2 linked regions of the Homo sapiens genome follow. The protein of the gene in region 1 purifies or fractionates together with the protein of each later gene. This does not show direct contact. Each region holds a gene or a part of one and is shown in the gene's direction. Other genes may lie near its edges.

The links.
Region 2: the proteins of CERT1 (region 1) and MARK1 purify together in Homo sapiens (affinity purification with mass spectrometry; 2 studies listed by BioGRID and IntAct, with this or other methods). This does not show direct contact.

What each region holds. Positions count from the first base shown.
Region 1 is NC_000005.10:75,496,726-75,512,955, reverse strand, and holds the start of CERT1 (ceramide transfer protein), read left to right. Parts: upstream 1-1,326; 5' UTR 1,327-1,450; coding exon of another isoform or gene 1,451-1,748; coding exon 1,749-1,844; intron 1,845-1,886; exon of another isoform or gene 1,887-2,182; intron 2,183-6,839; coding exon 6,840-6,974; intron 6,975-16,230. UniProt on the Homo sapiens protein: Shelters ceramides and diacylglycerol lipids inside its START domain and mediates the intracellular trafficking of ceramides and diacylglycerol lipids in a non-vesicular manner.
Region 2 is NC_000001.11:220,517,256-220,534,476, forward strand, and holds the start of MARK1 (serine/threonine-protein kinase MARK1), read left to right. Parts: upstream 1-10,880; 5' UTR 10,881-11,567; coding exon 11,568-11,618; intron 11,619-17,221. UniProt on the Homo sapiens protein: Serine/threonine-protein kinase. Involved in cell polarity and microtubule dynamics regulation. Phosphorylates DCX, MAP2 and MAP4. Phosphorylates the microtubule-associated protein MAPT/TAU.

The sequences.
Region 1 (16,230 bases):
GGGTTTTACCTTGTTGCCCAGGCTGGTCTCAAACTCCCGGCCTCAGGTGATCCACCCACCTCGGCCTCCCGAAGTGCTGGGATTACAGGCGTGAGCCACCACACTCGGCCAGCGTTTTCCCTTAGACTCGAAATTTCGCTCCTATCGTCCCATCCTTGTAGTAAGAAAGTACTCTTTCTAAGGTTTAATAACAAATTTTACTCTTGGCAATTACAAGGAAATCGACTATATTAAAATAGCTAACGAGAGGAAATTACTGAAGCTACAAAGTCAAAGTCTCATAATCAAAGTTATCCTTGACAACTGACAAGAGTTGTTAGATCTTCTATTGGTCTTTCTGCTAATTCAACCCTAGTCTTAAAACAAAAATAGCCTCCTATTGCCTAATCCCTTGTACACACAAAACCACTGCACTTCGGTATTTCTAATACGAGAAAGTTTCTATATATCCAACCTTTCCTATCTTTGAGGGGCAGGCATGGTTAACGTGGTTCTCAGTAAGATATTCATTTACAACCAAGAGAAAATCCCAGGCTATCATCTCACATTCTTGTTTTACTTTAAAAACCTTTCTAACGTCATTTATTCTCTGACAACCTCAAAATTACTTTCTACAAAGCAAACTCTAGAAATCTAAAAATGCGAAGTGCGTGCTTGTGAGAAGGTACTAAGGAAATTCTTCCTTTAAACGTCAAATGTGAATTCTAACTTCTAATGAGTAAGACCCTCGAGATTTACAGCGGTGGTCTGGTGGAAAGAAAACCCTTGGCACTAGTAGCTCACAAAACCCCAGCCCATGGTTGAGGCGGAAGCGGCCAGATGCTCCCGGGCTTTCGACAAGCCGCCCTGGAAAGCAGGCCCGTCATCTTCAGCGGAAAGCTCTCTCACGTCTGGGCCCGCAAGCCCGGAGGGTTCGTCATAAACACACAAGGCAAGGATAGAAGCGAGGCCGAGGGGCTGGTCACGCAACTGTCAAACGAAGCCCACCCACCGACTGACAAGGCCCCAAGGGGACAAGCGATCCCCGCGCGGGATACTCACCCGTTACCTCAGGATCGCGACTACAACTCCCAGGAGGCTGCGCGAGCGACGGACCAACGCCCTTCCCAGAATGCAGCACAGCTGCATCCCTACCCCGCCCTCTCCTTTCTCCGCTCCTCCTGCTTTTCTACCCGTCGTCACCCGGGAGAGCCGGAGGTAGGGTTCGGGAGGAGGATCCCGAAGGCTCGGCGTGTCGCGTCAGACGCCGGGAGGGGGACGGGGCGGGGAGTAGTGGGGGAGAATGGGAGGACGAAGGGGAGGGGAAAGGACAGGGGAGGGGAGGGTAAATAGTGGGCCAGGCAGGAAGATGGCGGCGGTAGCGGAGGTGTGAGTGGACGCGGGACTCAGCGGCCGGATTTTCTCTTCCCTTCTTTTCCCTTTTCCTTCCCTATTTGAAATTGGCATCGAGGGGGCTAAGTTCGGGTGGCAGCGCCGGGCGCAACGCAGGGGTCACGGCGACGGCGGCGGCGGCTGACGGCTGGAAGGGTAGGCTTCCTTCACCGCTCGTCCTCCTTCCTCGCTCCGCTCGGTGTCAGGCGCGGCGGCGGCGCGGCGGGCGGACTTCGTCCCTCCTCCTGCTCCCCCCCACACCGGAGCGGGCACTCTTCGCTTCGCCATCCCCCGACCCTTCACCCCGAGGACTGGGCGCCTCCTCCGGCGCAGCTGAGGGAGCGGGGGCCGGTCTCCTGCTCGGTTGTCGAGCCTCCATGTCGGATAATCAGAGCTGGAACTCGTCGGGCTCGGAGGAGGATCCAGAGACGGAGTCTGGGCCGCCTGTGGAGCGCTGCGGGGTCCTCAGTAAGGTGAGCAACCCCTGGTGCCAAGGGACCCCTGGCCAGACTCACCTGCAGCGAGGCAATCCGCTGAGGCGGTGGGGTGGGGCTGGCGGGAGGCGCGGAACGTGCCGGGGTGCGAGGCTGAGTGTTGCTGCAGCGACTAGGGATGAGGCGGGGATATAGGGGCACTGTCCTTGTTGCCCGGGGGCTCGTCGGGGGCAGCCGAGGACCAGGGAAAGGGTGTATAAACCTGAGATCCAGTTTGGGAGGCCAGATGCGCGCCGTGACTTGGGACTTAGGGCGGCAGCTGTCCCGGGTGTAAGGAATCCGGGTTGGGCTTCAGCGGTGTCCGAACGACTGGGCATGGGAGCGGTTCAAGTCGGACCTCTTAAAAGAGGTTGGTCTCTCTGAGGATGCCAAGCCGAGTAGGTTGGGGGGCACTGCGGACGCAACTCTTTCGACAGAAGCTGGAGCGACTCAGCTTGGTGTTGAAATTTGAGGTGTTGAATTCTGCTAGGTTAGATGTAGTGAGACAGATGAATGTGGAGGACTTTCTCCCTCACCCTGTACCTTAGTTCAGAATAGAGATATTGAATCGGCACATGATGGGTACAGGAAATATTCATAGTAACTTGGAACATGTGAGAATGGAGACTGATCTTTAGTCCAGGAAGAGCATTACTTAATAATAAAATATTTTTGCGGTAAGGGGTCGAGGGTAAGGAAAAGATGTTTTATCTTTTATATATTTTTTAAAATCCCTGTATCAAAATTTTAGCAAAGCAGTCATTATAGGACTGCAGGTGGATGATCTCTTGATATTACATAGTTGTGGGGATTTTTTTTTTAAGTTTTTGCTGTAAGAAGATTCACGTAGCCTTTTTGACTTCTCTCTCCCTTCCTGTTAAACTTTTTTAGACATGGCTGGAGCTAGCAGTTAACTTGGAGAGGGGGAGCTGGGCCAGTCCCTCAACAAGCTGGTCATAAGATACTATGTCATGTGCAGCCAGTGGCTATTAAGAAATCACCCTGTTTCCAGTATTCATATTTGGCAAATCACTTGGACATTATTTGTGGAATTGTTTCATATTAGGCTTTTATAATGTCTAGAAAGCTAATGAGAAGGGGGCCAGGAAAGGCATGAGTAGTCAGAACTAAGGATTGCAAGTGTTGACTTTTATTTGTATAGCAGCAAAATTATGTTGTATATTGATGCTGTGATCATTCTTGAAATTTCAGTGCAAGGTTTTCAGTAACGAGAAGCTCCTCAGGATTTCTTTAGATTAAATGTATCCTGTAATTTAGGAATCTCTATTGAACACATTGTGTAGTAGGTATACATTTTCAGTTGGTAATAGGAAGTGGGTTACTTGCTTCTCAGTGATTTTGGTAGTTTCATCACTGCTCATAAGATGGGAAGCTGACTGCCATATTAGTATTGTGATGTGTTAAGTATTTTACGAAACAAATTGTACTTTTGACCTACTGATAATTACTTTTTTGGGGGTTGGGGGAGTGGAGTGACCGGGGGAAAAAGTAACCAGTGCTCTGGAGTAGGTATACTATAGATAAAAAAATGGAAGACCAATCTCGATATTTAAATGCATACAAATGTATTTGATCACCTCTATGGAAGGTGAATAGCTTAAATTTTGACTGTTGCTGCATATGTAGAATGAATAGGAATAAAGCTTTTGGTATTCTTGCTCAAAGCTATGAAGGAAATTTTCCTGAGATTTACCAATTTATGGTTATATACAGTTTTCTGGAAGCTTTTTAATCAAGGGTATTCTAAATTGAGTATATATACTCATACTGAGTATGGTAGATGTTTTTAAATGTAAATTATATAGTTTGAATTCTTTGTATTCACCTGGTAATTTAAACAAAGGTCAGAACTCGGATTTTGTTCTTTTCCTTCCATTGAGTAATGTAAATAAGTCCCGGTACAATTCATTTTGTTTCTCCCCCAAAATGGGGTGGATTTGGAATGGGCTTGGGTAAATTTATATTAGAAATATACCAGTTCAAAGGGTATTTTCCATATGGTAATCTGAAATACATGGAAATACCTATGAAGCATATTTCTTATAAATCACTTAAGTGTATAGATTCCAAAAATACTAGATAGACAATAATTCTATCTAGTTATAGCAAGTATCGTGATGGATCATGGTGGGGAAAAGATGCATGCCTTAGTAGGACTTGAGAGCACCTAAGCCTGGATAAAATAATCTCATTCAATTTCTGAATTTCCTCCATCCTTCATGGTTTACCTTCTGTTTTTCCACACACCAAACTGTTTGAAATTCTGTCCATCCTTAAGAGTCCAAGCCAAATACTGTCCTTTCCATAAAGCCTTTTCTTATTTTGCCATCATTCAAGACCTCCTTCACTTGAATTCCCATAGCATTTTGTTTGTAGCTTGCTTCTGACTCTTATTCTAAATATATATTTTTTTCTCTTGAGTTTGTGTCTGCTGGCCTGTTGGCCACAGTAATATTTGATTCCCCTGCAGTGTCTAGCATATTGCCTTATCTGTATTTGTTAAATGGGGAAGAGTGAGGGAACATTATGAGAGCAGAGAAAAGACAAAAAACTTGTCTTCCAGGTGTCATGATACAGCTAATACTTACTGAGTAAAGGGTCCTGAAGCTGATACAGTTTGTTCAGTCTCTTATAAGAACTAATATTAAGTTATGGATACATAATTGCTGGGGCTTCTCCTCTAACATTGAAAGAGTTCTATTCTAGTGAGAAATGCTGAAGGTTAAGCTTCATTAGCTATGTATAACTCTTCCTCAGATTCAGAAAATACTATGTCCAGGCACTGTTCTAAGTCTATTCTTGTTTAAACTTAACTCTAAGAGAATTTGACAAAGAAAAAAAGAACACAAAGAGAATAAGTAACTTGACCACTGTCACAAAGTTTAGCCTTATGAAGTGTGGTAATTGTAAATGAGGTAGGATTAATCCATGAAGGGTCTTGAATGCCCTAAACAATTTGTATGACAGTCAGTGGGAAGTTGTCCATGTAAGTTTTGGAGCTAGAGACTCAATACGATCAATGTAAGAAAAGTAGGCAAATATGCTTAGTAAGTAAATAAGCTTGTGTAAATTATGAAAAAAACAGAAGATACTAGAGAAAAAATTATTAAGTCTCCTAAGGAATACAGGAACTGGATAATTTGATTGGAATAGTTGAAAATGAGAAGAGGAGGCAAATTTAAGGGTTTACTATGAAGGAAAGATGAGCAGCTTTTGGTAATGGGCTATAAATATTGAGAAGGAACACTTAGGTATTGAGTATCTTCTGTGACTATGCTAGGCATTTTCATTATTTTATTCGGCCGTCAGTCAACAGGCAAAGAAACTGAAGTTTACAAAAGTAACTTGTCAAAACTCTCTTCACATGAGTTATAAAATAGTTGAGCCTATTTTATCCTATATCCACTAATCTGTTTGTATATCTAATACACTAACTCTGAGCAGAAGTAGCAGTCTCCCCAAGGAAGTAGGAAAATAGGAAGGAAGTATACTTTATAGGAAGGTGAATTCAGTTTTATTGGTAACTATCATTTATTTCAAGCCCGTGTCTAAGTGGTGGTACATCTCAAGCAGTTAGAAATAAGGAAATGGTGATTGGGAGCCACTAGAATGAGTTAAATGTTGGCTTGGGTGAGTTCTCAGAGAGTGGTTGTAATGATGGGGCTTAGAAAAATTAAGAACTGGCTAGGGATGGTGGCTCACCTGTAGTCCCAGCACTTTGGGAGACCAAGGAAGACAGATCGCTTGAGCCCAGGAGTTTGAGACGAGCCTTGGCACCATAGCGAAACCTCATTTCTACAAAAAATTAGCCAGATGTGGGGGTGCACACCTGTAGTCTCAATCACTTGGGAGGCTGAGGTGGGAGGATTGAGCCCAGGAGATTGCGGTAAACTGAGATGGTGCCACTGCACTCCATCCTGGGTGACAGAGCGAGACCCTGTCTCAAGAAAATACTAAATAAAAGAAAATTTAAGAAGTGAATCAATCTCAAAAATGCTTAATTAGAGAACAGAAAAATAAAAGATTTCTCAGTGGATATAGAGCCTGAGCCAATGCAGTATATTTTGGCAATCCATTTTTAATTAGTTTTTGGAATTGGCAGATAGTTTTTGAGATTTTTCTATACTTAACACCCCAGAGCATAGATAAAAACATGCAAAAATAAGTATTCCTGTAAAGGTTACATTTCTGCCTTTTCCAGTTTATTGTGATCTTCACTTTGCAGCAAGACTTTAGCAACACAGAAACTCTTAAGGTATTGAAGACAATCCAATATGTTTTTGAAAAGCAATTTTATTTTTGTTTTATTACTCTTGAGTTTGAAAAATGCATGTTCAGAGGAACTTGGAAAATGTATTGGCCATTTTTAATATTATTCAGTTCTGTAGAGGAAAAGTTAAAGTTGATGCCAGCTTACTAAAGATTATTATTTTTATTTTGATATAGTTACAGCTGTTATAAATTTTCATATAGGAATAACAACAAAAGTAGAGTTTAGCAATAATTGACTTTATACTTCCGTTGATTTAGAAGGCTTCATGCAGTCTTTGGTGTCAGAATGAGAGACTACATACATAACTGAACATACTTCTCTGTTGAATATGTTAATTATGACAAGGACCAAAACAAATATCATGAAGGTACTTAGGAGAGGATGAAAGCATACGAAGAATAAACAATAATTTTAACCAAAATCTGGCTTTCGTTTTATTCTTCAAATGTTAGAAGAAAATGTTATATTTTATTTCTTACAGATTTATTTATAATATTGTAAAAATTACTGAAAATCATTATGCAATCTAGAAAATCTCAACTTTTCACTTTTTGTAATCATTTTACTGTTTATGCTTAGAATTAAGTTGGACTTTTCACGTTTTGGTTTTAAAATTAGATTGCTGTTTCACAAAGTTTGGATTTCTAAAATACTTCTATTTTTTGTTTTCTTCTCTCTTCCCTTCCCCTTCCCACTCCCAGTGGACAAACTACATTCATGGGTGGCAGGATCGTTGGGTAGTTTTGAAAAATAATGCTCTGAGTTACTACAAATCTGAAGATGAAACAGAGTATGGCTGCAGAGGATCCATCTGTCTTAGCAAGGCTGTCATCACAGTAAGTTCCTTTTCTTCTTCATTCAACAAATATTTATTGAGTGTCAGCTACATACCAGGAACTGTTCTACGTGTTCAGGATACATCCGTGGATAAGATAAAGATCCTTGTCCTTGTAGAATATACATTCTAATACTTTTTTCCATAAAGTGATTTTACTGTGGTTTTTACTACATATTGTTATTTTGCATAGACATGTAGTTTTTATCTGGTGGGTATATCAAACCAGTTTAAGGGCTTCAGGAAAAAAAAATGTTTGAAGCCTTTTTATTTGTTGAGGCTGGGACAGTTACTTTGTAGGTTACTGAATATTTAAAAATAATACATCTTGTAAGTAACATTCTAAAATTTTAACTTAAAAATATAAATGTAAATTCATTTTTAAACTTTTTAACATTGAGCTAATGCCATCTCTTTGTGGAGTTGGGAGAAGCTGTTCTCATGTTCCTCACACATGATTTGCTATTTACAGTTTTGATTTCTCTAATGTGGAATAAAAGCCTGAAGATAACTTTTGAAAAACTCTAAGTATAGGCTCCTTCTAACTTTTTATGATTTCCCCTTATATTTTGCAGTTACATCACTTTTCTCCAATTCAACACCCTTTAAAAGAATAACTCACCTTCGTTGAGTCATTCTACTTAGTTTACATTTTGTTGTTCTTTTTTTGTTTTTTTGTTTTGTTTTGTTTTGTTTTTGAGACAGTCTTGCTCTGTCACCCAGGCTGGAGTGCAGTTCTGTGGTCTCAGCTCACTGCAACCTCGACCTCCCAGGTTCAAGCAATTCTTCTGCTTCAGCCTCCCAAGTAGCTGGGACTATAGCCACGTGCCATCACGCCCGGCTAATTTTTGTATTTTTAGTAGAAATGGGGTTTCACTGTGTTGGCCAGGCTGGTCTCAAACTCCTGACCTCAAGTGATCCACCCACCTCAGCCTCCCAAAGTGCTGGGATTACAGGCATGAGCCACCGCGCCTGGCCTACTTAGTTTACATTTAACTTAGTATATAGAAACAACTGTTCCTTTTTGCACTCGTAGTCATTAGACATGAATAATGTTTAAGATATGTAAGAACTATAACAAGTAAACTGGCATAAACAGGTTTGGGAACAACCAACTGACTTGTTAAGCATGTAACCCAACTAGTGAGAACAGAAGTACCTGATAATACAAAAAATAGCATACTGGTTAAGAATGGTCAGCATGCCATGGGCCAAAAAAAAAAAAAAAAAAGTGTTGGCTAAGGCCAGACAGTTAAATAGAGGTCAGTTAAGGGAGCTGTTGTAGTTAAAATCTGAAAATGGGTACGTTAAAACAAAAATACAGAGTTTACTAACTCACTCAAAGAGAAGTCACATTTTGTGATAGAATTTATTTGGCTTATAAAAGTGAAAGATATATATATAATACTTCAGATTTCCGTTAATATCTAATCCTTACTTAGCGTATGTTTGTTATGCATTTAGGGAAAATCTTACAGTATTTTTACATTATTTTTTATACATTATTTCCCCCCTTGTATATTCAAAGTTTGAAAACAAAAGTTTAGAATTGAATATCAAGTTAGAGAAACACAGAAGAAATATTTGGAAGTGTTGATAATGAAACTACGCTCTCTATTCTTAGAGACAATTTTTAGGAAATAGCTTTAACATAAAGGCTCAGTATTTATTTTGACTGGTATGTGGTACATTGTAATGTGTTTAGAAATTGTATCTAGTTTAATATTTTGGGTGTTTTTCTTCCGAGATAGATCATTATTCATATCAATGGACAGAATAGTGGATTGAAATGTACCTTGCGATCTTGAAGTGTTTTTCCTTGATCCTCCACTCCCCTTCTTTTGCGTATTATTATTGGATGTTTATTAGTTGCAATGCTTAACTCTTTGAAAATAGTATAATGATTGATGTAAAAATGGGGAGGAATTAAATTTTATCTTTATTATTCTCTAAGTAGTAGTATTCCTAGAGTACCATGCTAGTTTCTGTGGATTTAAATATAGTTATTCTGTCTTGAATTATGGACTATAATAATGTTGCCTGGCTTATTTGGAGAAAAGAAAATTTTAAATTAAACATTTAATTTAAATGTTTAATTTAAATTAAACAAAAAATTTAAATGTTTAATTTAAATTAAACAAAAAATTTAAATTTTAACATTTATATCCATCTTCTCAGGAAGAAAACAGTGTTACTTTATTGTAATTGATTTTTGTTATAGCTATATGTACATGCATAACTTTCATTGTGGTACATAGTAAAAGACATGCGTAGGAACAAGAAACAATTTGAATTCTTTGAAGGAGAGATAAAAGTAGAAGTAAAAAGATGAATTAGGCAACAAAATCTGTGTGGTAGTCTTAGATACAATGAAATGGATGATAGGAAAAAACACAAGCATTTATATTATTGAACTTGAACTTTCCTTGCCCTTTGGGTTCACAGACTCCATGTTACATATTTAAAGGAAATTAAAAATATAACTGAATTCAGTGAACTCAGGATGAGTTTACAAATTAGAGTATGTACTTTAGTTAAATAAATAAATGTAATAGTAATATTCCTCATTAAATTTTAATAGGCATCTCTTGGTATTTTTTTTCCTTAAATATGGGCTATGCCTATTGTCACTTCATGTCAGAATACAAAGAATGTAAATGTTTAATTTCTTTATATGGCACTCTTATGAAATTGATAATATTCACGTACAAAGAAATCTGGGCTTGAAGAGTTGATGTGACTTTACTGTAACCATTCATTACTATATTATTTGTTGGTGGACCTAGCATCTGAACCCACATTTCTTGATAGAGCCTAATCCATTTTAAGTTCATTCTTAGTTTAATGATTAAATCACTCTTAATTTATAAAAACAATATTCTTTATCTGTGTGATAATAAAGTGGGTGAAATAATTTCAAGGAAGAAAGTATGTCTTGAGAGAATTTATTCCTTAATGTGAAAGGATTGACAGTAAGTAGGTGAGAGGAAAAATAGTATTCCCTTACTTTGTGTAAAAAGAGCTATTTGTATGTAGAATAAGTGTTTGTAGAAAGACAGTTGAATTCTTCAGTTATTATAGCTTGATACTTAGAAGACCCAGCCCCTGCTACAAAATTTGCCGCATAGTAGATATTCTGAATATGTTAGTTGTAATTGTTTCAATTAAAAGCAAATGTTTATGGAATATTTACACTGTTTACTTTTTATATTCTATTTTTAAAATAAAGTGCACATGATAAAAAATATAATTTGTGGCATTAAAAAGTTTAAGAAGTACATGCTGCTTTTTAGTCTTGCACTTGAGGGACAACCAAACTTAAATTTCTGGTCATCCTTTCAGAAAATATGTAGGACTATACAAGGATTTGTTTATATCTTTCATAAATATTTACACAAATGGTATCATATTAAGCCTATTGTTCTGCACCTTGTTTTAATACAACTTACACATTAACTGTTATATTCTGTTGAATCGTGTGGATATATTATATTTATTTGCCTGGACCCTGTTTTTGCACATTTAAATCATGCCTAATTTTTATTACAATCATTATTGAAACAAATATGTACTTTAAAATTTGTTTTTAGTTATTGTCAAATACTCCTTCAAGAGTACCACTCCTCACTCCTACCAGTAGTGAATGAGTGCCTCTGTTTCTCCTTACCCGCAAGTATTGAGGAAGTTGGGTTTGGCAAATGTTAAAGTATTTGTCAAACTGCTACATTAAAATGGTATCTTATTATTTTAAATTGCACTTTTTATCCATGAGGTTGAGTAACTTAATAATTTATAGCCCATTTTTATTTCTTTTTCCTTTTCCAATTGCTTATGCACTTTTTTTTTGGTTTTTCTTTCCTTTTTGGCTTGTAGAAACTCTTCATATGGTAATTAACCATTTGGCACATTTGTTGCAAATATTTTCCCCCACATTGTCACTTGTCTGTTTCTTCTTTGCTTGTTTTATAGTCTATATTAGGCCCTAGAGAAATCTTAGATTTTTACATACTCTTATTGACATCTTTTATTACGGCTTCTGTATTTACTTGTTTAGATAGGTGTTTCTCTCTCAAAGACTATCTCTCTATATGAATGTAGATATATTTTCATCTAAAATTTACACTTGAATTTTGATTCCTGTGGAAGTTATTTTAGTTTAAGGAGTGATATTGATGTTTTTAGTTTTTTTTCCACATGACTAATTATGTATCCTGGTAGCATTAATTAAATAACTAACCTTTTTCCAAGTGGTTTCAAACACCACTTTCATCATATATTACGGTCCCATATTTATTTAAGGTTGTTTCTGGACTCTCTTCTGGGCATTTGGCTTGTCCTTCTTATCCTCTGTTTAAAATTATATTGTGGGTATTTCATCAACCAGTTCCTTAAACTGCTAATGATTCATTGGTGAAGATAGAAGTAATTTATTTGCAGTTACTAAAGTTAAAACAGGTAGAGATTTTTGGTATAATATCTTCAGATAGAATTAGTTTTCCTAAGTTCTGTAGTTTCATGTCTCACCTTAGGCATCTGCCTTTGTATACCTCATATCTTGTTGAACTTTTAAAATCACCAGATGAGTAGAATTCCTATTATTCTTATCATAGGTTGGTTTTAGGGAAATTTGCCAGTTTTATGTTTTAATATTTTTGGAAGGAAAACTGAAAGGTAATGAAAATGTTACTGTTGGATTAAAAAACAAATTAAGTCCAAATAGTGATTAGGCAAGTTGGTGAGGTAGGGGGTTGCTGCAAGAGCGGAAGTTGAAAGATCTTGGAAAAATTAAAGAAACTTCATAGAACCCCATCTCTACATCAAAAAAATACACAAATCAGCTTGGCGTGGTGGTACACATCTGTAGTCTCAGCTTCTTTGGAGGCTGAGGTGGGAGGATCACCTGCTTCAGCCTCGCAGGTGGAGCCAAGGTGATGCCATTGCCCTCCAGGCTGGGAGACAGAGTGAGACCCTGTCTCAAAAAAAAAAAACAAAAAAAACAGACAATGGAGATATAAAAGCAAGGGAAGGAAGTGTTCAAAATTGAAGAGAACCACAAAAATAAACATAAATTTTGAAAGTGCCAAATAGTAGTCAGATGTAAAAAATTTTTGAATGTGGAATTGTAAAATGAGAAATTACATTATGGAAATGAACTTCAGCAAATTGGGTATCATCAAAGATGATTAGTGCCATAAATAGTCATTATAAGAACTCCAAATTAGCGAGAAATCCAAGAAGAAGGCCTTTTCTCAAGTGTGCAGTTTTTCTATGTTGAACAGTATTAGTGAGAACTAAAGGAAAGAGAGGAAGGTATGCAGCAAATAAAAGCACTAGATAAGAAACTAGTTGTTAATTCTCATTGGAGGAGCATTTGTCAGTGAATTTTTAAAGAAATGAGACTCTTCGATCTGCTAAGATTTATGCTTTGAGAAACTCATAATTTATCTGTTTAGCAGTTCATTAGAAAAGAATATATTCCATCTTTCAATAACATGATTCAGATAATGTAACTCAAATAGCGTGAAGTAGAAAGTACTTAAAATATTTGGTAAGAGGCCTTGGAAGAAGAAAAACATGAAAAAGGGCACCTGTTGAAATCTGGGTTTCAGAATGTGGAAATAACTTACAGAAAATTATATAATTTTAATTATATAATTATACAATGTATTCATTTGCTAGGGTTGCCATAAGAAAGTACCACAAACTGGGTGACTTAAACAACAGAAATGTATTGTTTCACAGTTCCAGAGGCTGGAAATAGGATCAAGGTGTGGGCAGGGTTGGTTCCTTCTGTTGGCGGTGAGGGAGAAGCTGTTTCATGAGTTTCCCCTTACATCTGGTGTTTGCTGGCAATCTTTGGTACTCCATGGCTTGTGGATGCATCACTCCAATCTCTGTCTGCATGTACACATGGCATTCTTTTTATGTATTTGTCTTTTTCCAGATTTCCCCTATTTATCAGGACACCAGTCATACTGGATTAGGGGTCCAACCTACTCCACTGTTATCTCATTCTAACTAATTAAATCCACAATGCTGCTGTTTTCAAACAAGGTAACATTCAGAGGTACTGGGAGATAAGCCTTGAACATATAATATGATTTTGAGGGGGGCACAGTTCAACCCGTAACACAAAGTATCTGTTAAGCCAAGAGCCCCAGTCTGATTGCCATCTGTTATTTTATGACGTCACTGGGCTTAAGAAAATTGTATATGTGGTGCATTTTATTTTGTGTAGGGGTTGTAGGAACATGACTGTTAAATATTTATAAAGCAACTCTTAATTCCGAAGTGCTTAAAACGTTGTGCATGGGCCGTGAAGTCAAATCTGGGTTCAGACCTTAACTGTGTGTATTAGTCCATTCTCATACTGCTGTGAAGAAATACCTGAGACTGGGTAATTTATAAAGAAAAGAGATTTAATTGACTCACAGTTCTGCATGGCTGGGGAGGCCTCAGGAAACTTACAATCATGGCAGAAGGCACTTCTTCCCAGGGCGGCAGGAGAGAGAATGCAAACCAGGCAAAGGGGGACAAGCTCTTTATAAAACCATCACTCCCATGATTCAATTACCTCATAACAGGTCCCTCCCACAACACATGGGGATTATGGGAACTACAATTCAAGATGAGATTTGGGTGGGGACACAGCCAAACTGTATCATTCTGCCCCTGGCCCCTCCCAAATCTCATGTCCTCACATTTCAAAACACAGTCATGCCTTTTCAACAGTCCCCCAAAGTCTTAGCTCATTCCAGTATTAACCCAAAAGTCCAAATCCAAAGTCTCATCTGAGACAAGGCAAGTCCCCTCCACCTGTGAACCTGTGAAATCAAAAGCAAGTTAGTTCCTTCTTAGATACATTGAGGGTATGGGCAGTGGGTAAATACACCTATTCCAAATGGGAGAAATTGGCAGGCAGCCAAATCTTAAAGGTCCAAAATGATCTCCTTTGACTCCATGTCTCACATTCAGGTCACTCTTATGCAAGAGGTGGGCTCCCACCACCTTGGGCAGCTCCGTCCCTGTGGCTTTGCAGAGTACAAGCCCCCCTCCTGGCTGCTTTCACAGGCTAGCATTGAGTGTCTACAGCTTTTCCAGGTGCACAGTGCAAGCTGTGAGTGGATCTACTATTCTGGGATCTGGAGGACAGTGGCCCTCTTCTCACAGCTCTACTAGGTACTGCCCAGTGAGGATTGTGGGGGTGGGGGGGCTTCAACCCCACATTTCCCTTCTGTACTGCCCTAGCAGAGGTTCTCCATGAGGGCTCCCCTCCTGCCGCAAACTAATGCCTGGACATCCAGGTGTTTCCATACATCCTCTGAAATGTAGGCGGAGTTTCCCAAACCTCAGTTCTTGACTTCTTTGCACCCACTGGCCCAACACCGTGGGAAAGCCGCCAAGGCTTGGGGCTGACACCCTCTGAAGCAATGGCCTGAACTGTCCTCAGAGTGGCCTTGACCCCTTTTAGCCACAGCTGGAGCTGAAGCAGCTGAGACACAGGGCGCCAGGTCCCAAGACTGCACAAAGCAGCAAGGCCCTGGGCCCAGCCCAGGAAACCCATTTTTCCCTCCTAGGCCTCCAGGTGTTTGATGGGAGGGGCTGCCATGAAGGTCTCGGACATGCCCTGGAGACATTTTCCCCATTGTCTTGGTGATAACATTTAGCTCCTTGTTACTTATGCAAATTTTTGCAGTAGGCTTGAATTTCTCCCCAGAAAATACGTTCTTCTTTTCTGTCACATCAACAGGCTGCAGATTTTCCAAACTTTTATGCTCTGCTTCATCTTGAATGCTTTGCCACCTAGAAATTTCTTCCTAGAAATTTAAGACCTTAAATCATGTCTTTCAAGTTCAAAGTTCCATAGATCTCTAGGGCAGGGGCAAAATGCCGCCAGTCTCTTTGCTAAAGCATAACAAGAGTCACCTTTGCTCCAGTTCCCAACAAGTTCTGCATCTCCATCTGAGGCCACCTCACCCTGGACTTCATTGTCCATATCATTATCAGCATTTTGGTCAAAGCTATTCAACAAGTCTCTAGGAAGTTCCAAACTTTCCCACATTTTCCTGTCTTCTTCTGAACCTCCAAACTGTTCCAGCCTCTGCCTGTTACCCAATTCCAGAGTTGCTTCCACATTTTCGGGTATCCTTATAGCAGCACCCCACTCTCTACGGTACCACTTTACTGTATTAGTCTGTTCTCATGCTCCTATGAAGAAATACCCGAGACTGGGTATTTCTTTTTATAAAGAAAAGAGTTTTAATTGACTCACAGTTCTGCTTGGCTGGGGAGGTTCAGGAAACTTAAAATCATGGCGGAAGTCACCTCTTAACAGGGCGGCAGGAAAAAGAATGAGAGCCAAGCAAAGGGTGGGAAAGCCCTTATAAAACCATCGCCCCCATGATTCAATTACCTCCCACCAGGTCCTTTCCACAGCACATGGGGATTATGGGAACTCCAATTCAAAATGAGATTTGGATGGGGATGCAGCCAAACCATATCACTGCTTACAGCCAAAGGTACCTTTGGCAGATTACTAAATTTCTCTGAGCTTTCAGCTTCCTTAACTGATTAAACAAGGGGGATAATGTCTAAGTATGGAATGATTATGTAATTAAAAGAAATAACATATAAAAGTACTTGGTACAATTCTTGGCACATAGTAGTAGTCTCTCAAATTTATTTTGTGAAATGTTTATGTTGGGAGTAAAGCCTACAGTTAAAAAATTAAAGAACAGAAGTTGTCAGACCCTTTTATCAAAGGGGGACAAAGATGCAGTTGACTCACTAGAGCCGGGATACGTAGCGTGTCATGTTTGAACAGATTCTCATGCAACTCTGTTCAGAAATTTTCTTCCACCAAATAGTTCTATTTACCAACCTAAAAAAATAGTTAACTCTTTATATGTTTTCTGTGTATTCTTGATAGTCTTTTTTTCTTTGATCTATTTATTGTTTCCTACCTTTTTTTGGTTTTCCTTATTCTATGTCTTTTTTTAAAAAAAAGATATGTTGTGCCTTTTAAAAAATCACATTGAGATATAATTTACACACGGTCAAATTCACCCTTTTAAAGTATACAGTTATAGTTTTCACAAATGCATACAGTCATATAGTCATTACCACATGAGTATATAAAATATTTCCATCCTCCCAGATAGTTCTCTTCTGCCCCATTGTAGTCAGTTACCCTCTGTGTCCCCAACCTCTGGTAACCACTGTTGCAGCATATTATATACATGGAATCATGCAGTATG
Region 2 (17,221 bases), on another chromosome or scaffold:
CGCCTATTCCCTGAGACATAACAATATTGAAATTAGGCCAATTAATAACCCCACAATGACCTGTAAGTGTTCAAGTGAAAGGAAGAGTCACTTGTCTCCCACTTTAAATCAGAAGCTAGAAATGATTAAGCTTAGGAAGGCATGTCGAAAGACCAGGCAGGCCAAAAGCGAGGCTTCTTGCACCAAACAGTTAGCTAGTTGTAAATGCAATGGAAAAGTTCTTGAAGGAAATTAAAAGTACTACTCTAGTGAACACATGAATGATAAATGAAACAGCATTATTGCTGATATGGAGAAAGTTTTAGTGACTCAATAGAAGATCAAACCAGCCACAACATTCTCTTAAGCCAAAACCTAATTCAGAGCAAGGCAGTAACTTTCTTTAATTCTACGAAGCCTGAGAAGTGTGAAGAAGCTGCAGAAGAAAAGTTGAAGCTAGCAGAGGTGGGTTCATGAAGTTTAAGAAAAGAAGCTGTCTCCATAACGTGAAAGTGCAAGGTGAAGCAGCAAGTGCTGATGTAGAAGCTGCAGCAAGTTATCCAGAAGGTCTAGCTAGGATCACTGATAAAGTGGCTACATGAAACAACAGATTTTCAATGCGGAAAATATAGCCTTCTATGGGAGGAAGATGTCATCCAGGGCTTTTACAGCTAGAGAGAAGAAGGCAATGCCTGGCTTTACAACTTCAAAGGATTGGATGACTCTCTTGTTAAGGGCTCATGCAGGTGGTGACTTTACATTGAAGCCAATACCAGTTAGGGCCCTTAACAGTTATGCTAAATCTACTCTGCCTGTGTTCTATAAATGGAACAACGAGGCCTGGATGACAGCATATCAGTTTGTAGCATGATTTATAGACTATTTTAAGCCCACTGTTGAGACCTACTCCTCAGAAAAGAGGATTCCTTTCAAAATATTACTGCTCACTGAGAAGGTACCTTGTCACCCAAGAATTCTTCTGGAGATGTACAAGTAGATTAATGTTTTTTTTCATGCCTGCTCATACAACATCCATTCTGCAGCCCATGATCAAGGAGTAATTTTGGCCTTCAAGCCTAGAGGTATATTAATATTTTGTAAGGCTATAGCTACCATAGATTGTGATTGTTCTGATGAATCTAAGCAAATTGAAGAGCTCTGGAAAGAATGTATCCTTCTAGATTCCATTAAGAATATTCATGATTCATAGGAGCAGGTCAAAATATCATTAAGGGGAGTTTGGAAGAAGCTGGTTGTAGTTCTCATGGATGAATTTAGGGGTTCAAGACTTCAGTGGAGAAAGTAACTGCAGATGTGGGGTAAATAACAAGAAAACTAGAATTAGAAGTGGAGCCTGAAGATATGACTGAATTACTACAACCTCATCATAAAAGCTGAAGGCATAAGGAGATGCTTCTTATGGATAAGCAAAGAAAGTGGTTTCTTAGATGAAATCTACCCCTGGTGAAGATGCTATGAATGTTGCTGAACTGACAACAGTGGATTTAGAATATTACATACACACAGTTGATAAAGCAGCAGCAGGATTTGAGAGGATTGACTCCAATTTTTAAAGTCCTACTGTGGGTAAAATGCTATCAAACAGGATCATCTGTTAAAGAGAAGTCTTTTGTGGAAGGAAGAGTCAACGAATGTGGCAAAGTTCGTTGTTATCTTATTTTAAGAAATTGCCACAGCCACCCCAGTCTTCAGCAACCACTACCATGATCAGTCAGCGCCATCAACATGGAGGCAAAACCCTCCACCAGCAAAAAGAGTACAACTTGCTGAAGGCTCCAATTACAACTTGCTGAAGAATCTGGTGGTTTTTTTTTTTTAGCAACAAAGTATTTTTAAGTTAAGTACCTTATTTGTTTATTCATAATGTTATTGAACACTTAATAGATAAGTATAGTGTAAAGATAACTTTAATATATACCGGGAGACCAAAAAGTTTGTGTAACTTGCTGTATTGTGATACTTGCTTTATTGCAGTGGTCTGGAACTGAATCTGCAATATCTCTGAAGTATGTCTGTAGTCCACAAGCTCTCTCCCAACCATCAACATGGCAAAATTTCTCTCCACTTCGGCATATAGGTGCCTTTCCCTCTTACCAGTCCCTCCAATACATACTCTCTAGGCTGTACGTTACATAGTTTTACTATTTCTTTCCTATTTCTAGTTTGCTGTTTGTCTTAATTCTAATCTGATTTCATCCATATAAAAACATCAGGCAAGCTACACAATGCAGTTTGTCCTGAATCCTGCCTTTATGGCCAGACCTGATTTTATTTGACATTTATAGCAGAATAAGTTCACAACATTTATTCATATATTTTTATGTCCTTAACACTCCCCTCCATGTCTCTGTTGCACTAATGTTCTCATACTCAGAAGACTACAGTGGTTTTTAAAAGTAAAAACGAAAAGAAAAGGGAGATATGGATGTGGGAGTCAGCAATCATTATGCAGGTGCCTGTGACCCAGAAATGAATGAAAAGAGGCCTGGGTTCAGGGCTGGAGGGCCTGGATTTCCAGATCCATTTGTCATGGAATATATGCTACAAGACAAACCTTTTTACCTTTTGTGCCTTGGTTTCTTCTTTGGGGAATGGACTAAGAACACTTGTTGGTTTATAAGAATTTTAGGCTGAATTACTGGAGATGATGTAAACAGAAGACTTTAGAAAACCCACATAAACTTTAGCTCTTAATAAAGACGATGATGATATACATTGATGTTTCTGTATGAAGCCTTTTCTTTATCTTCCTTTGCCGCTAGTGCCCTTTGGACAGTTACCAATTAACACTGTATTTTGTTCTTTAACTTTTCATGTTACTCTATTAAGACTGCATGTTCCTCAACTGCATGCACCATATGACCACCTGTAGAAATGATTGTAAAATAATTAGTACATATCCTAAAATAGTTACTTTTCAAGATTTTATACTTGAAAAGAGGCTGTCATCATTCATTGTTTTAAATGCTCCTTTGAGGAATGATCCAGTTTGATGAACATAAGAAAATACTGTTGTTTTTACTATTACATTTCTGTTGTTTGATCAAATGTGGGATTATCCAATTTAATTATCCATGCAGTTCATCAAAGTTGTTTCCAAACAGATACTTCATTAAAAATAAGTCATCAAAAGACAAAGATTTACCACCCCTGAGAATATACAAAACATCAAACTACAGGTTCCAGAGCTCTTGCAAAATAAATTCATAAAGTGTACCATCACATCATTGTATTAAATATATACTTCCTCAGAGTGACTACTTTGAAAGCTCAGCTCAAGTTTTGCATACAACTCTTGTTGTATTTATATAAAAATTTTGGGAGGCTGAGGTGGGCGGATCATGAGCTCAGGAGATCAAGAACATCCTGGCCAACATAGTGAAACCCCGTCTCTACTAAAAATACAAAAATTAGCTGGCTGTGGTGGTGCATGCCTGTAATCCCAGCTACTGGGGAGGCTGAGGCAGGAGAATCGCTTGAACCTGGGAGGCAGAGACTGCAGTGAGCACAGATCGCACCACTGCACTCCAGCTTGGAGACAGAGCGAGACTCCATCTCAAAATATATATATATATATATATATTAATTGCAACATGTTAGCATCATACCTCATACCTAGCACCTCTTAGAATAGAACAGAACTCATAGTACATGCTCAACAGTATGCAATTGATTGTGGCTTATTGTTAAGAGTTTGATATGACAGAAGTAGATAACAAAAGAATGGTTAAAAATATTACAAATGAAATATACTTTTTCATATGTAAACAAACCTGGATTCTAGCCATGGTAATCTTCTGAGATGCATATTCCATGATTGTAATGTTTTTAAAAGGACACATTTATAACTTTAGAAATTTAGATGTTTGTCTTAGTGCTAGAAAAGGAAGATATTAGTAAATAGTGGAAAAAGTTAATATGGGAGTCTTGGCAATTGAGTTCTTAAGCAATGGATGGCAAGTGCCCAATGGGTGACTATAGAGGGTCAATTTGGAAAGATTAAGGACACTTAACCTGGGTTCTTCGCTTATGAGTGGTAATATACTAAAATCATCTGAAAGAAATCCAGGATCTGAAAACATATGCTCAAATTCAGACACATGATTAAATCTACTATCCATTCATCTGCTTAATTGAGCAACTCCCATATGCTAGGCACTGTGCTAGGCATTAGAGACACGGTATTGGACTGAACATTCACAATTGCTTTATTTTAGTCATTATTATAAGAGCTATTAAAGAAAAGTAGAATATATTACTAAAGTAATAGGGAGCTTGGTTTTTATGAAATGGACAGGAAAGAGTATTCCAAAACTGTTTATTTATCTGAAAAAAAAGTACTGCTAAAACAGTTATAATAAAGCTGTTTCTACTATTACAGAGTTATAAAGTTTACACATCAACTTTGATGGGCTGCACTGATAATTAAATTGGATAATCTCACATTTGATTAAATGGTTTCAGTCTGCTGAAAGGCTTTTGCTTAGGTTATAATGTAGACTCCTATTTACTATATGATTTTTTGCTGAACTACAAAAATATTATTTAGCACTAACAGAAATAGAAAACTATCAGTTATTGAAGATAAAGCAGTTCATAATGTTGAAATGTAGTAAGTGTACTGGTGTCAATATAATAAAGCTGGTGTAATATTACGAAATGTAGATCAAATATAAGTCACCTGCTCAGGAAGGCATCTTTATTATGGTTTTCAAGTACCTAAGCTAGTTGTGGAACCAGTTGAAGCTGTTTATACAAAAGCTTATTGGAGAAATGCCAAAATATTAAGGCAGAAAGCAAATTATAATTGGATTGGAGAATAGATCTAGCTGCTGTAATTCATTAATTTTTTTAGAAAAGTTAAACCTGGGTGCTTGTGTTTGTTAAAAGAGTAATATAATCAAGACATAACAAAATATTATTTGTATAATGGGAGTCTCTGGTTTTGAACTGTCTAGACACTGAAAGTACCTATAAAAATGTGAACTTCATGTGGGTGGGGATTTTTGTCTATTTCGTCTACTGCTGTTTCTGAAGAGCTTAGAATAGTCCCTTACATTAACAGAGCTATATATTTTTAAATTAATGAATGAATGAAAAGCAAAGTGAAAAATGGTGTATTTATGTAGAAAAGGAAGAAATCAACAAAATGTTAAGTGATGTCACATTTAACATAGAAAAAATAATTTGAAGGCATTGAATAAATTGAGTTTATAAAAAGAACCTACAAAAATAACATTTTTATATTAATAAGGTAAGTATAAAGACATGAGGGAACAATTCACTTAGTGTGTCATCTAGGAAATCAAATACTCAAATTGCAAGCCTGTTTAAAAGGGCATTGAACTACATTATGTGTAATTTGTAGTCACAAATGCCAAGTAAAAGACAACCAAGCTCCTACTTTAGGGAGGCTACCATAAGACTTTTAAGAGATTGTTTTGCTTTCTATGTGACTTTACAAAACTACAGTATGGAAGGTACAATAATGTGGGTATATCTATACTGATACATTTATGAACTCATATGCAACCATTGTTCCTTTGAGATCACGCTATGAATGTTGATTTTCACCTGCACTTTTCCAGCATTGCTAAAGACCAGTGCATAACTCACCGCAATAGTAACTTCCATGTGTCTTGTTCTTTGTTTTGCTGTGCCAATTTGCACTGCCAAGTGACACTGTGACGCTCAGTCTGCTGAAAGGCTTTCACTTAGGAAGAGTCACCCAATTTCTGATGACTGTTCCCTGGGGTTGACCGCCAGCTCTATTGCCTCTAGCACTTCATTGTCGTGTCATTCCATTTTTAATTTTTCAACCTACTTTTGAAGTGTTTCCTCCTGACCAAGTACAGTACACCTTGGTTTATGCAGATACTCATTTAAAAGACTTATTGAAATATCAATGATCAGCAATTCCTATGTATGGATAAAAATGAATAATTACAGTAAAATCACAGAGCAGTAAAATTAGTGGCACTATGGTAATCTGTAGGAGACAGAATAGAGTCACTTTGCTACCCAGTCAATAACATTTACTGGGAAGATACTTTGCATACTATGTAAACTCTTATATCCCCCAGTTGTAGACTTTAATTATCCTCCTATATTTTCAATTCTCCTATATTTTCAATGATGCTTCTTAGAAATTTAAAAGAATGTGAAAGTTCAGGAGAACATACAAGTCAATAAAAGTCATTTAGGAAATTGGGCATCTACTAATTGCTAAGCACTGTGCTAGGTTCTAGGCAAAAATAAATAAGACATATTCCCTTCCTTTTCCTAGTGCACAGGTGGATAGGGGACCAGCCAGGTACACAGTGCAAGGAGAGCAACAGTAGAGGTATGTCCAAGGTACAGAGGTAGTGCACAGGGAGTGATTAATTAACTGTGGGTGTGGGGAGAAACAGTGGTGTCAGGATAGGTTTCTAAAGGAAGGTTTTTAAAGACCAACTCTGAGGCCATCAGGCAGAAAAGAGGAGAGGACATTCCAGGAAGACAGAACAGATGACACAAATGCACGGAGGAGTCAAGCAATATGGTGTGTTCGGGGAATTCCAAGAAAACGAACATCGCTGAACCTACAGTGCTTGTGGGAAACAGAAGAGTAAACAACTCTTGGAGGTTATGTTTGTGAGGTGTGGAGTGGCATAACCAAAAAAAGCATTGAGCTGACCCTTGCTGGGTCTGACAGTTTATGTATATGCTGATGGCTATGAAGACAAGTATAAGTTAAATTATCACAAGGACTTTTCAGTCCTTCTATGACAATATATACAATGTAAAAGGCAACAGCTTTAAGCAGTTTTAAAAATACGATATATCGTTTCTTTTGAGGATCTTGTCCATTTCAGTGATTCTATATTTTAAGTAGTGAATGTTGACACAATAAAAATTCACCTTGCCAGACAGGCAGGCAATCAGGACCCAGTTTATTTGTGACAAGGACTGATTATTCTTTCCTGATGGACATTAACCTTGTTTCTCTTTAGCTGAGACTGCTCTTTGTTACCTTACCGAACTGTCTATCCTGTAGTTTTCCTGTGTGGCTAAATGAAAGATTGTAAATAGCCTTGTAGTACCTAAAACAAAGTATGCAAATAATTATTGACTGGCCAAGTCTATCAGACATTGGATACATCTAAAGCACATGATATAAAGACATGTGCAGTTTTAAGAGTTTACTATTAATCTGCTGAATCTGTCACATTTGATAAATTCTTTGTTTACAAATGACTGCAATCTGTTAATGCTCATTTGTATGAATTCAACATGTTTTCCACTTTGCTCTTTAAAAAGAATGCGTAAGACTGACTGCCGCTAACTATTAGGTGAAGAATATTCCCCTAGAACAGCACAGCATGGCATGTGGTAGAATGGTGCCCAACAAGCATTTATTGGGTGCCACTCTACCACAGAATGAATTATTAATAGCTTATAATCAAGGCCTTTGATTCTTAAGCAACTAAGCCTTTTTATTCTCAGCTTTGACCATATGGAGAAGTACTGTCCAACAGAGAGATAATGTAATGTAAACCACATATGTAAGTTTATATTTTTTAGGATCTGCATTTGAAAAAGTAAAAAAGAAACAGTTGAAAATGATTTAATAATATATTTTATTTAACCTAATATATTAAAATATTGGCATTTCAATATGAAATGGTTATAATATTTATAAAGAGACATCTTACTCTCTTTTTTTTCCTACTATTTGAAAATGTGGTGTGCATTTTATATTTATAGCACATCCCAATTCAGGTAATACATTTCCATGAGAAATACTTAATCGGTATATAGATTTCAGAAAATTTACAGTTGAAAAAGTAGATTCATATACTTAACATACTTTCAAACATAACACAATTTTTTCAGTCACTGAATCAAATCGGTTTTTAAGTGTAAATTATTTGAAATTGAGTCAAATTAAAAATTCAAGCAACATGTCAAGAGCTCAGTAGTCACATGTAACTGGTACTGGACCCGGTAGTTCTAAAAAATTCTACTCCATAGGGCTGACGGTAGGCAATGCTCTTTTCCCACTTTTCACTGTAGGTTTAGCACCTTTTAGATCTTTATTTCCCTTTTGTTTTGTCAGTACTTCAATTTTCTTCCAAAACTTTCATTACCCTAACACATTAAGTTAGGAACCTGTGAATTGAACATGCCACATTTGGTTAATAACCCAAAAAAAAATTACTCAAAGCCTTAAAATATTCCCTTTGTCATTTCTCCATAGTCACAGACACAGAAGCTATATATAGTAACACAAAAAAATTTTGCTCATGAGCATTTTCATTTCTAAGGACTAGGGTTAAACAGTATTGACTCCATCACAATAATGCCTCATGTCATTTTTTTTTCCTCTCCCATGTTTAAGGATCTACTAATGCCATTTTAAGGGGAGAAGAGCTCATATAGGGACAGACAGTATTTCCTTTTGAAAAACATAGTGACTTTTTTTTTAACCTGGGCAAAGTGCATTTTCACTTAGTTTTCACTACATACCAAGCTTAAAATTGTTAGGTATTAATAAGGATTATTTGAATGGCATTTTCTTTTGGATAGAATTGTTCTATCCAAAAAAACAATTTGGCTAGCTAGAATTATGGATTCGAGCTACCTAGTAATGACTCTCTTTGAATGTAGTTTCACTGTTAGAAGTGTTCTTGGGGATTGACTTAAACAATAAATATCCCTTCCTATTATTATGTGATATTCCGTAAATTTCAATATGTGAAATAGTGAGCATTGTGTAGCAAATATAGCTAAGGGATTTGTCCATGGCTTTTAACAGACACTTTAAAATCTGTGGAAGCCACTGTGCCAGAATCTGGGGCTCTCCTTTAAGCTCTGTCTCGAATTAGCCATTATATCTTATGGGGTGAACCTATGGTTTTTGTGACTGGTGCAAGATTGAACAGCACCACATATTTCAGTTATCTTCTTCTGTATCTTATTAACCTGGTGCATCTGTGATCTTGAACAAGTTAACTTAGTGGAATTTTGTAAAATGGAAATAAATATGCCTGTCAGGGTCACCACGATTATAAAGATAGAAAAATATGTGAGTATACTTTAAAGAGCAAAATACATACTACCAGCTGAAGGAATGATTCATATTCCAATGGGGCTGAACGCCTTTTCACAGCTACTTGTTTATTGCTAGGTTAACTCAGGTACTATTGCAACACTAGGTACCCTTGTGTGGCTGCAGCAGTCAGTGATGCCGCTGACACTGTGATGGCAGCCCCTACAGGCAGCCGTCGCAATAGTTAACCAGAAAATAACCAGAAAAATACAGGATTATGCCCTTGCAACTTCAATGTATCTTGGTGATTCAGGATTTTCTGCAGAGGGCACGTAAATGCTTGACATTCTCAGTAACACATCATAGTTCAGGAGGCAGCATTGCAGTTCCGCTGCCTAAATTCTGTTTGAGAAGTGGTGATGACCACCAAAGGGATCTTGTTTTTTTTTTTTTTTTCATTTGCTTTGTGAAATTGGTAAGTGGTTACAAGAGAAAATGCTAAAGAAATAAGTACACAGATGGTGTTCTAGAAGTGAATATAGACTGGGTGAGAATTGCTTCTTTCCTCAAAGGATTTTTGTGTTTGCTATTTTCAGGTCTTTTGGACCCATGCTTCAAGGGTCAAGTGTTAACTTTTCAGAAACAACCTTTAATGAGTCAGGATAAAAACCATCTGGTTCAGGGATTCTTCTTTCAAATGGAGGAAATTCAGAAGAGACGAGAAATTTCCCACCATTATAAGAATTCCACTGGAGGCATACTGAAGCAGCTCAGAAAATCAATGTATCCGCTCCTATCTTTCATTCCTTTTGTCTTCCTGCCCATCCATGAAAGGAAGTGAAAAAGAAATGTTGCAAAGAAGAATAGAGAGACGATAAGGTTTTCGTTCTACAGGCTGAATGTGCAAAATGTAAGCTCTCAAATGAGATTAAAAAAAAATGCAGCCTTGCTTATAAAAGGCGAATGGGTCCTGGACAATGCACTACAGACGCGGGTGCCTACAGGATGTCTTGAGGCAGGTGGGTGGAAGTGTGAGGAAGCCACCTGGAAGAGGGAGGACAGGGCCCAAATCAGACACAGCTCTCCATCCTCCCTAAACAGGCTCGCCTAAGTGACACTTCCTTGTGTCCCAGGAAGTGACGATCAGCCAGTGTAGATGTTGTGACTCGCGGGTCTCACCCACTCCGAGGGTGCTGCAGGGCGCCCAGAGCGAGACGTCTTCCGCCGGCCCCATTCCCGAAGAGGCCGCGCCGTCGGGGGCTGAGACCCACTTGTACTGAGTCTCCAGCCGCCTCCCTAGGCTGCTGGCGCTTCTAGGGGCTTCTGTGCTTTTTGCCAAACTCTGAGGGTGACCCTGAACCTAACGGCTCCCTAGAGAAGGAGACTGACAGAGGGCTCAGGCGAGGATAGGGATTGAGAAAGCGTGGAAACGGGGGAGGAGGAGTAGAATTTAAGAATGGTAAAAGTCCCGAGGTAGGAGAAAAGGAGGGGTAGGATCCAGGGTAGGATTGAATCCAATTCTTCTCCAATGAAACGGACAAACAAACAAACAAACAAACAAAAACAGAAAGAAAGAAAAAGAAAAAAAAAAGCCACTGATTCACATCAGCTCTCTCTCACCCTCAACCCGGCAAAAACCAAACACGAATAAAAATAAAACCACCAGAGGCTCTTAGACGACCGTAAACTCTGCGGGTGGGGCACGAAACAAAAATAAACACAGGGACAGGCGGGCAAGAGAGCGCGGGAGGAGGAGGAGGAGAAAAAGGAGGAGGAGGAGGAGGAGGAGGCGGCCCCGCATCCCTAATGAGGGAATGAATGGAGAGGCCCCCTCGGCTGGCGCCCGCCCACCCGGCGGCGGCCGCCAAGTGCCTCTGGGCGCTGCGTGCCGCGCCCGCTGCTCCGCGCGCAGCCGGCTCGGGCCGCTCCTCCTGACTGAGGCGCGGCGGCGGCGGTGGCTGTGACCGCGCGGACCGAGCCGAGACATTCGCGCCGGGGGATCGGGCGCCGCCGCCGCTGGGCCCCGGGCGCGTGGATGCGGCTGGGTCGGGCGGCGCCGTACACCTGAGGCGGAGAACGGGGCGCGGCGCGGGTGACGCTGTCAGGGCCGCGGTTCCTGACGCCCAGGCGCTCGCCAGGACGAGCCAGGCAGTGATTTGAGGCACCGGCTTCACCTTCACCCATGGTCCGGAGAGCCTAGCGGGGCTCGCCACCGCCTCCCGGCTCCCCTTCCACGCCTCATCCTGCCAGCCTCGCCGCCCCGCCAGCGCCGGGCAACCGCCTCGCCCGAAGCCCTCCCTCGTTACTGTCCGCATACCCCGGCGGCGCCGCCGCGGGAAGCGGCTCCCCCTCCTCTTCCTCCGCGTCCTCTTCCCTCTTTCCCCCGCCGGGGCCGCTTGTTGCACCGCCCCGCGGCCTGCGGGAGCCGCTCGCCCCGGCCTTGTGCTCGCGTCCGCACCCCTTTCCTGTCGCCCCCCGGGGCCCGCACCACAGCCCGGCCGGCGAGACCCCGGCCAGACCCCGCTGCCCGCACAAAATGTCGGCCCGGACGCCATTGCCGACGGTGAACGAGCGGGACACGGAAAATGTGAGTAACCGGAGCCTCCCTCGGGAGCAGTGGGGGCGAGACCCTCCTCTGATCCCCACTTCACCCGCGCTTGGGCCGTCCCCCGTGCCTCGGCGCGGCCACCCGCGGCAGGGTCTCCACCTGGAGCCCGGCGTGACCCTCACCCACTGCTCAGCCCTATTCTTCATTCCAACCCCATTTCGCTTGTTTCCCCTCAAGGGTGAGGGTAGGGAACCGTAAGTGGCGCCCTCTCGCTCGGAGGTGGTCCTCCAGGGGCGGATGGGGTGATGGAGGGCAGAGAAGCAGAATGGGATGGCAGAGTGGGCAGTCAGGATTGCTTTATTTCTACCTCTGCATTCTGTGCCCCCACCCGAATGAATGCTTGCTTTACAATAGCAGACGAGCCGGCTACCTCTCACACTCTTGCTTTTCTGGATCTTTCAATCCTTTGCACTCTCCCCTCCTCCCCCCGCATTGCCCCATGACTTTGCTTTTTGTAACATTGTGTCCACATTTTGGGTCATGGGCACCAAAGCGAGAAGGATGGGAATGGAAGTGGAGATGTGTGCGTGTTTGTGTATGAGTTTATACTGCTGTGACACTCTTAGTAGGGATGAGTAGAAGAATTTCACGAACAGCATCTATGGCCCTGGGGTTACAGCAAAATGTTGAAAAGCCACATGAAGCCAAGGGCTTTTTAATCTCTTCCTTAAGTCAGTGATAATGATGCAGGGCAGGTTTTACTTTAAATATCTCTCCTCCTTGGAGTGTCACAAGGTGCACATCTTTAAAGGAGGGATTTTCTGTGTCTTTGATCAGATTGCCCTCTGGAGCTGTTATCAAGATGCAGATGTGCCGGGCTTTTAAACTCTTGAAAAACGAAAAGAACAAGATCCCTTGTATTTCCACCTTCTGAAAAGTACAGTTGTGTGTGTGTGTGCAAGTTCCTTTGTGGGAAGGTTTTCTTGTTTTTGTTTTTGTTTAAAACACTCAAGACCTGTAAATAGGGCTTGGCTGATTTTCCGACTGATTTTAAGGACCTAGAGGGGTACTAAGTTTTGGTCAGCTGTCCAGAGCTCTCTGTCTAGTTATCTCATCAGCCGTCCAGCTTTTGATATACCACTGACTTCATGGGGTTGGTAAAATAAAATAACGAAGCGCTTTGGTGTTCTTAGACAAAAGGCATGAGAGAAAGGATACAAGCTCACTTCTGAGTTGTTGGAGGGGTATAAACAGATGATTTCATCTTAGGAGGGAAGCACAGAAATTTAATATAACTATACAAAGAGAGAAGAAATTCTACTAAGAGACCATTGTTAGAGGACCTGTGAAGATGTTTCAGAGTATGCTTTTGTCTTCCCTAGCGCCGTGCATTTAAATGGGAAAGATAGTGTAAGGCTGCTGCTATCATAAATTAGAACTTCATTTGCATCATAACTATTTTAGAAAATATAATTGATACATAATTTTGATTGAGAGATTGAACAAGTTCAGAGAAAAAGATGGATATTTTGGTTTGAGTTGGTTTTAAAGCCGAGTTGGCACAGAATTTTTCTAACAGGAACATTAAAAAAATGCCTGTCATTCAAGAGTGTGAATGAAAAGTATGACAGATGATAACCTTTGTTTTTATTAGCAAATTACTGTATGTGTTAACCCAGGAGGAGTGGAAAAATACATTGTTTTTATTTTCTTTTAGATTTTGAATAGTATAGCTTTTCTCATACTTGTATGAATAAGGTACTTCATAAAGACATGAGATATAATTATAGAAATATGCATTAAGGAATAGCACAAAATGCAGCTTCTCATGTAAGAACACACAAAAAAGGATTTTAAAGCTAAGCAATAATAGTATGATAAATTTTGTTGTGAGTACCTTCTGAAAATGATTATGCTGTATAAACTGATTTGCTGTTTCTGAACATGTTATTTCAAAGTCACTTTTATGGTCTTGTGCCTTATTGTGTTGTACATAATGATATCTCCATTTAGCTTACTTTACCCACACCTTATTTTCTCCTAATTGCTGTGGAAAATATCTATTATATGACACCTGTCAATTAATAAGTATGCACTCAGCATGTTCATTTTTTAGGTAAAGGGTTGGGAAGGGGATATAGAAGTAGTGTTTAAGATAAAGTCTCTCCCTGCAAGGAGCTTACAGAAGAGATAATAATCCCAAACAAGTAATGTATGGTAGAAGACATTGTGTAAATAGGGCTAAATTGGTTTATAGGTGTTATAGGTGTTTATCAAAGAGGCCACCACTGATGGCTACGAAATCACCATTGGTGACTCTCTTTATTCTCTAGTTGGTAGTAAATGGCATCATCCATTTTTACTTCTCATCGATGAAATAAAGTAACAAGCCTGCTTGTTAGCTAATATATTAATGCCAGTATGGCAGCCAAAATGTATTTTTGTTTATAGTCATTTTCAATTACATGACATATTTTTAAAAATAGTTACAAAACTTTTATATTCATATGACTATTAAAGGGTTCTAAGTCCTTTGGTATATCAAGGACACTAACTAAAAACATTTTATTTTCCTTAGAAATTAAAATCAACAAATACAGTAATTTAAAACACCATCTTGATATTTCGTTGTCGTTTGCAGTTAATATAAACATTTCTTTGGTCATCCATATAACGTATTTGGATTTTGTGTCCTTGGGAATATATAATATCTACCCTTCTCAGTGTCACTAATATATATTCAGGATAAATAAAAATCCCAAAAGAGGAATATTATAGCACTGATCTCTTATATACTACTGCTATATATAGTAGAATGAGAAAGAATTGCTTTTCTCTAAGAACAGTCTATGTGTACTTTTTCAGGAGTATTTTCTTTGATGAAAGATTTGTGTGTGCCTTGTTAATAGGCCTCAACGGGCTAAATACAACAGGACAACCAATGATTAACTTTTAAGGCAATAAACACTTTGTAGTAAAGTAAAAAAAATGTGTTGCAGATAATAGAATCTATGCAAAATGTGTTTGATTTTAGATTATAAACAGTAAGTCCAGAAAAAGAGTAAAAAAGATTTCTCTTTTTTTCTTTTGTTAGATTTTATTTGGATAATTCCACCATGGATATAGATAATATATTATCATTACTCTTACATGTTTTTTAATGAAACAAGAAAAAAAATTTAGTATTTGGGAAAAACTCCGATTATGCTAATTATTAATGGGTCAAAAATGCTCAGCCTAGCTTTCTGTGATGAAATTTTGATCAGTATGAAGAAAACTCTTTTGACTACTTCTTGGAATGTTTTAAAATTGAATTCAGTTAGACTAAAAAGCCTTTAATAAAAAAAGACTCGATGTTGAGTCTTGTGACATACTGAAATTCATGGCGGTGATTATAATGATTACCTATTGTAACTAAGGTTGCCATCAGTAGTTTGTCTTTTGAGAATCATTGTTAATGGCATGAAGAAGCGAGAGGAAAGCATACCTTTGTCACTATCCTTGGATTTTCTGTGCATCCTTCACATGTCACAGTACCTATCACATAGCATCTAATTGCCTGACTTTGTCTCCCTTAGTCTGTGTTGCCAGTGCCCAGCACAGTGACTAGTACAGTATATAAGAAATCAGTGCTGTAACACCCCCTTTGAATTTTTTCATTTATCATCAAAATATATTGGTGACATTGGTGAGGGTAGACATTACGTATTACAACCTGAGAGGCTGAATGAAGCCTTCAGAGAGAAAATTTAGTGACCTACCCAAGGTTAATAATTCTATCCTTCAAGGTGAATAATGAAAATCTGACACCTTCCACTATTACTGTACTCATGCTGTTACTTCGAGAAAGTGTTTTTTTGTTTTCTTTTGTTTTGTTTGTGTCTTAAAGAGTTTAGAAGAGTGGCTCATGCCTCTAATCCCAGCACTTTGTGGGGCCGGGGTGGGAGGATTGCTTGAATCCAGGAATTCGAGACCAGCATGGGCAACATGGAGAAACCCTGTCTCCACTAAAAATACAAAAATAAGCTGGGCATGGTGGTGTGTGCCTGTAGTCATTCACAGCTACTAGAGAGGCTGAGGTGGGAGGGTTGCTTGAGCCGAGGAGATAAAGGCTACAGTGAGCCAAGATCACACCGCTGCACTCCAGCCCGGGTGACAGAGTGTGAACCCTTTTTTTTAAAAAAAAAAATAGATTTTAGAAGAGCATATGAAATGGTATAAGATACTTTATTAGAGGAAGAACAGGGTATGCCGTCCCTATCCCTACTTCTGAACCTTTACTGTTTTCTGTGTGGAGTGCCTTGCACTTGTCCCTTCATATCAAATTTACAAATCCTTTATGGCTTGTCTCATTGTTTTAACAAGACTTCTGAAATGATTGCAGCTAATATTGTTGTTTGTTGTAGCTGAACAGTGGTGGATGTATATAGTACACATCAGTGGTCTCTAAAGTGGGTGTGCAGGGCAATACATTGGAAGAAGAAATGTATTTAATGTTTGTCACTTCACTTCTGACCTACATGCTATTATTACGTCTTTTTTTTTTATAAAAATCCAGTTCATATAGAATTAGACACATGATTTTAAAGTTATTATTATTGTTATTATTTTTCCTCTTCCATCTCATTGTTTCCTTTGGGTGTCATTTTCTCTTTTCCTGATGAATATCTGTGGAAGTTCTTTTGGTGCAGGATTGTTAGTGATGAACTTTTTTAGATCTGAAGACATATTTTGCCCTAATTCTTAAACGATAGCTTTGCTTAGTCTGTAACTCTAGGTTGATAGTTTGATTTCTTTCACCACTCAGAAGGTAGTATTCCATTGTCTATTGATATACATTGTTTCTGTTCAGGAGTCATCTGCTATTTGGTGTGTGATCCTTTCTGTCTGTCTCTATCTTGTGTGGATTCATATGTCTCATCAGTTATGGGAATGTACCAACCATTATGTCTTTGAATGTTACCTTACCTCTGTTCTGCATAGTATTTCTGGCACTCTGGTTAGATGTGCGAAAATTTATCATTCTATCCTTCATGTTTAACCTGTCATTTATTTTTTTCCTCCTATTTCACTGTTTATCTGTACTCCAATCTGTAGTATAACCTATACTATAGTTACCATATATGTTTAGATCTTTCTTCAGCTGTATATAACCCTGTTAACCTATCTGTTGAATTTTTTTTCATTGTGGTAAAAAGCACACATCAGATACACCCTTTTAACAAATTTTTAAGTGTGCAGTACAGTATTTTTGGTGGGGAGGGAGTAGATTTTAGTGGTGGTAAGGTGGCAATTTTATTTTTTTATTTTTTCACGTCTTATTTTTTATTTAATTTTATGATATGTATTAGATCTATTAGTGCATATTTTGGGGGTATATGTGTTAATTTGATACATTCATATAATCAAATTAAGGCAATTGGGATATCTATCACTTTACATATTGATCTTTTCATTATACTAGCAACATTAAAATTATTCTAGCTATTTTGAAATGTACAATTGATTAGTTAACTATAGTCACCTCAGTGATCTATTGAACACGAGGTCTTTTTCCTTCTAAGTGTATGTTTATACTCATTAATCAATCTCTCTTCATCCTCCCCTTCCTACTAACCCTTTCTAGCCTTTGTTAACCACCA